2 separate regions of the Homo sapiens genome follow, and region 1 is linked to region 2. A link means that fine-mapping ties the variant in region 2 to the expression of a gene that starts in the linked region. Tissue or cell type: hypothalamus. Region 2 holds a variant in brackets; the other region holds the start of a gene. All regions are shown on one strand. Distances are between the middles of the regions.

Region 1 (2,750 bases), 760 kb after region 2:
AGCCACACCTGGGCTTTGGCCGCCAGGTCCACCCCAGGGCCCTCACCAGCTGCTGGCGCCAACATCTGTGGAACAGAGTCGGTGAAGAATGGGGGCCAGGAATGCAGGATGAGGCCTGGGAGCAGCCAGGGACACCCTAGTTTGAGAGCAAAGGTAATGCAGCCCGTGCCAGCTTCCTGGGACAGCACTGGGGTGACCTGCCTGGGTGGCACACCTCTCGCCAGGGCAAGGGCTGGCTTGGGGCCTGTCGCCTGGAGACAGCAGGGTTTAGAGGAGGGACTGACCGGGTCAGGGGGCACCTCGCTGCCTGAAAAGGAAGTGACGAAGGAGTGGGCCAGGGTCCCGGCCACCGGCACACCTCGCAGCTGGCCCGCTAGCACGTTGCTGCTGCTGTCGAAGCCTGGGGAGGAAGGCGGTGGGATTGGGGGACCTCGGGCCAAGATGGGGCTCCTCCTTCCCGGCCCTTGCCTTGCCCCGCACCAGACACTCACCGCCCAGGTAGCTGTAGGTGGAGGCTGTCAGGCCCCCATCGGGGCCCTGAGCCCGCCTCAGGCCCATCTCTAGCAGCCGCTTCTCTGGCCCTGCGATCAAGCGAAGCCGCGCTGCGTTGGTGGCCACCAGGCTGTGGGGAGCCAAGAGTCAGGGGGTCCCAGGGTGAGGATCACTAGGCCACCCAAGACGGCGGTTACCTGGGGCCTGGAACTTCCAACCTGGGAGCTCCACCCTCACCCAGCCCCTCCTTACACCCTGAAGAGTGGGGGCGGGAGGCCAGTCCTGGGACCCCTGGGCAGCCAGCCCCGCCGCCACAGTCCAGCACGGAGCCCCGGCGCTGGGGGCCCATCCCATGCCCACGCTCCCTGCCAGTGGCCCGCAGCCCACCTGGCGTAGCTGACCAGGCAGAGCAGCGGTGTCTCCAGCAGCTGCACCACCAGGAGCGGCCCGGACACCTGCAGGAGCGGCACCTGCGGGGAGAGAAGTCAGCTCCGCGCTCGGCCCAGCACCCCGTGGCCGCCGCGCCGCCCGCTTACCCCTACTCACTCCGGGGAAGGCGAGGGAGCCCTCGGGCAGGGCTCGCACCGTCACCTCGGAGCAGTCGAGGGCCCGAAGGTGCTCGAAGAACGCAGGATCCGTGTCTGGGGGCAGCACCGAGGCCAGGAACTGCACGTCTGGAAACGAGGTAACTGCGCTGAGACCAGCGCGGGGACAGACCGGTCGTGGGACATGGGGGGTTCCACGGGGGGACAAGGACTTCCACCGGCCATAGGTGGGGGTTTCTGCCGGGCGTGGGGGGCTCGTCGCGCGGACGGGGGACTACCGGCGTCCCGCAGGCGGAAGGCGCGCAGGAAGCGCACACAGTCGCGCAAGCCGGCGGCCAAGGCGAAGGCGCCGCCGAACGGGCAGCGGCGGAAGAAGAGCTCGAACTCGGCGGCGTCCCGCGCCCGGCCCGCGCGCCAATAGCCCAACGCCATGGTGGCCTGGTAGAGGTCAGTGAGCAGCGGCCGCGCCGCCGCGCGCGCCTCGGGGTCCTGCTCCGCCGCCATCCTGCTCCCGACGTCCGGACTCCGCCCCGCCCCGACCCCGTGACGCGCCCCGGCCTATGGCGCACTCCCTGTGGGGCTTATCGTGCCGTTTGGGAGCGGCACGGGACTCGATGGAGGACGGGTGGGGCTAATAGTATCGGCGCGCCGAGAGGGGCTGAAACAGCTGGACCCGGGATGGGGTGGGGGATGTCACCCAACTCCTCTCGGACCCCCCAACCCCACTCCAGGCCCAACGGCCTCTTTGGAGCGCAGCCCGGTCTTGGTCACCAGAGGTGCCCCCAGTCGCTCGTGTCTCTGCCCTTTGGCCGGGCAATGAGGTGCAGCTCAGGACTTGCCAGGCGGCGGAAAGGGTGGAGGACAGACCAGCCAGACTCCACCCCCACCGACCCAGAAGACAACCGCTGGCCAGCAGCCAGCTCCTGCCCTGGGCCTGGGGAGGGAGGCCAGAGGCTGCCTTAGTTAGAGCTTGAGCAGCCAGGCTAGGACGAGGCAGCCCAGATGGACGCAAATGTCGCTTGGAAAGAGCTTGGCACCCAGGAAAGGGCGGCGTGGGGCAGGGGGGCGCATGCCCACTGTCGGCTGGCACCAAAAGACCTTTTGTGGCTATGAAGGCCCAGTGTCCCTCAGTGGTGGCTTTTATGGGGTCCTGCAGTCCAAGCCCCACAGGAAACTTTCTAAAGGTTTGAGGGCAAAGTCAGGGGCCACTACCCAGGGAGAATCCATTCCCCTGTGGCTTGGGGCCCCGAGGACAGAGTCTGACCAGAAGTAATCAAGTAATTACACCCCATCCTCTTTCACCCCAATGCAAACACGGGTGGTCCAGGGGAGGGAGTGTGGCCACCCATGCTGACCACATACGGCTGTCAGGATGCTGAGGCACAGCTCCACAGAGCCCAGGCAGCCACGTTCTGGCCACCCCAGAACATCATGGGAGGGGCACAGTCCCTGGAGCAAGGGGCAGGGATTCCAGGAATGAATGAGGTGAGGGGAGGGCCGGGACAGCACATGACAAAGGGCATGGCAGCAGGGCCGGGTGCTACTGGGACTTCTTTCCTGGACAATTCCAGGCTTGCACGCTTGCTCCCATGGGGACAATGCCAACAGGAGGCAGAGTGGTGGGGTGGTGGCCTCTCCAGATAGTGACCTAACAGTTTCTGTTTCTGGCTTTTTAAACCCCCTGAACTGGACTTGCTTTTGCAATGGAAAGAA
Region 2 (2,750 bases):
CTGCCAGGGCATGACCTCCCTGGAGACCCTCACTCCAGACGCCTAGAAGTCAGTGACCCTGCAGCAAGAGGGAGAGGAGCCCACAGCCAGGGCTGCTCTGATGGACGCCACAGGGCCGTGCCGACCCATGGCCCAGACTCCTTTTAGCAAAGGCCTCCTCTAGAAGTGTTTGCCAAGTGCTGGGGGTGGTAAGAAGGGGGTGCCAAGAGCTGCGCAGTTTGGGAGCGAGAAGGGGTGGGAGAACTGAGAGGGGCTGGGTCCCAAGGGGCAGTTGTACTGAGGAGGAGGCTGCCGACAGCGCTGGGCCCCCAAGCCTCTGCTGGGCTTCTGGGAAGCAAACGGCTAAGTGTCCTGTTCCCTGTAGCCCAGCTAAGAAAGACCCTTGAGGGAAGCAGGCAGCCACAGAGGCTGCACAGTCTTGGGAACCGTGGCACAGCCCAGGGTGGGCCAGGACAGTCCCCGTGCCCCTCACAGGCCTGGGGAGGGTAAGGCAGAGCCCATCAGGCTGTCCCCAGAGACCCCAGCTGCCTCCTGGGCCAGGAGACAGGAGTCGTACAGGTTGGCTAGGGGAAGCCCTGGGGGAGATGGGCAGGAGGAGGACGTGGCTAAGAGCTGGGGTGGGTGTTGCGGCCTCTCCAGGAGTATTCTGGAGAGAATTTCCTAAACGGAACAGGCTCTGTGAGGCCACCCACACTTGCTGCCTGCTGGCGACCCCTGGAGTGGCATCCCCCCTCACACTTCTGTGGGACCCTCAGACACAGCCGTCGCCATTGCTGAATGACCGTCGCTGGCCACACGGGCAGCTGGACCATGGCCACAACTCACCGAAGGGCCAGAGGCACGACTCACCGAAGGGGTAGAGGTGGGATGCTGCCCACTGGTGGGAGGAGAGTACAGAGATGGACTCTACCCAGTTGCGACAAATTCAGGAGTTTCCCGAAGGGACTGCGACCTCTGTAGGCAAGGCCAAAACATCTAGGGGAGGCCGGGCGCACACCCCCTGGACCAAGGGTGTGACCCAGGGCTGGCGAGTGGGTACCTGGGTGGGTCTGCCAGGTGGAGAGC[C/T]GGCCCTGTCTGCCAAGGGCCCTGAGGGCAGGATGTGGTCTGCCGGACAGCACGTCTGCTCACAGAGGGACCACCTCAGGAGGGCTTTCTTCTGAGCAGTTGTGCTTCCTGTCCTGAGCACCTTGGGGAAACTGAGGCAGGAGGTAGTGTGGAGCGGTGAGTATCTTGGCAGGGGTGCCTCTTCACCAGCTCACGCCGCAAAGCCTGCCTACCCCAGCCTCCAGCCCTCATGGGCCTTGGAACCCCTCCGGGCATTTCCACAGCCCACCCCCAGGAAAGCCTGGCTCACAGGTAACCAGAGCACACTCCTATCACAGTGAGTCCCACAGCACCCATGCCTGGATGCTGGCCAAGCTCAGGCGCCTGCCACTGCCACTGGCTGTGCCCTGCCTGCAGGTCTCCCTCATTCTACCCTCTCCTCAGATTCTCTCCTCTGCCTCCTCCAGGAAGCCTCCCGTGACTCCACCCAGAGCCCTCTTGTCCCTGAATTCCTGGGGTTCTTTTGGCTTTGGGGATAAGTGGGTGTGGAGCTGTCGTGTCCCTAGGTGCAAGCTGGACCGGTGCCCAGCCTCCCCGATGGCCTTCTTAGGGCCCACCCTGCAAACCTCTGCTTTATCTTCCAGATACAACCTCACCCATGAAGGGAAGGCCACGCCTGCATCCCTTAGGGTCAGAAGCCAAGACGCCCTGCAGGCTCTGCACCTGACTCTGGAGCCTAAGATCCCTAGAAGCAGGGCAGTGCTGCCTCCCTACAGCTTAGTCCTGCCCATGGTGGGTCCTTGGTTCAGCCATTCATTCATTCCCTCCCCTCCCCCCTGCCCCATGTCATAGACAGGCTGGCTGGGCCCTATGCCGGGGCTGGGCCAAATCCTGTATGTGCAGAAGGACCCCGTGAGAGCCTGCCCACAGCAAGGTCGGTCAGAAGGGATGGCTGAGACACAAGGGGCAGGGTTTACAGCCCAGGTGGGGGCAGCAGCGTAGGGTGCAGGAGCCCAGAGGGAGGGTGCAGGGCCATCCAGCAAGGCCAGCCTGCAGAAGGCCGTTCCTGCCCAGTCCAGGTGCAGAGCCTTACTAGGACCTGGGAGAGCAAAGGGACAGGCAAGGTCATACCTGCGGGGGTGTGGAGCTCCTCTGCTGGGCCTAGATGTTGAGTTCATACCCCTTTGCCAGGTTGGGAGAGGGCATCGGCTGGGGACAAAGCGGGTCAAGCAGGTATGAGATTACCCTTGGATCTCTTCCTCCTGCAGCTTGGAGGATGCCAGCAGGGGCCGGCGTTGAGGAGGCCCTCGGGTGGCATCACCAGCATGGCTCTGAGGGTCTCTATTTCCAGAGCTCTGCATCTGTGAGCTCAGGCTCCCCACCCAGTCAGCGAGGGAGAAGGCAGGCCGCTCCTCAGTGGACACATGCCAGTGGCCTCAGGTCCCATTGCTCCACCTCTCGCAGTGGAAGGCCACCCCCAATGTGCTGAGTCCACTCAGCAGAAGGGAAGCGCTTTCCCTGAGCTTGCAGGACTCAGCCCAGAGCCCGGTGCTTAGAGGGCTCTGTGAGCCTTTGGGCCCAGGGGGCCTGTAGACGCCTCTGGAGGCTGGAATGTCTGTGGAAAGCACCACCTTGCTGATTCTGCCGCAGAGGCTGGGCTGGCATGTGGGCTGGGGCTTGTCCTAACACTGGGACCCTGGCAGGTC

What was found. PIP is the estimated chance that this variant, and not a neighbour inherited with it, causes the effect.
Region 1: it holds the start of NAPRT, and the variant in region 2 is fine-mapped to the expression of NAPRT in hypothalamus (GTEx, PIP 0.96).

The regions. Positions count from the first base shown.
Region 1 is chr8:143,576,778-143,579,527 of GRCh38, forward strand. It overlaps NAPRT (nicotinate phosphoribosyltransferase), which reads right to left and starts at 1,553. Exons shown (of 13, transcript NM_145201.6): 1 at 1,316-1,553; 2 at 1,039-1,166; 3 at 880-962; 4 at 492-622; 5 at 285-400; 6 at 1-65. The coding sequence starts at 1,541. RefSeq lists enhancers at 961-1,868, 1,869-2,750.
Region 2 is chr8:142,819,066-142,821,815 of GRCh38, forward strand. No RefSeq gene overlaps it. Among named protein-coding and RNA genes, the nearest start is that of GML, 14 kb to the right of the region's middle. The variant C/T (reference allele first, on the strand shown) is at 1,066.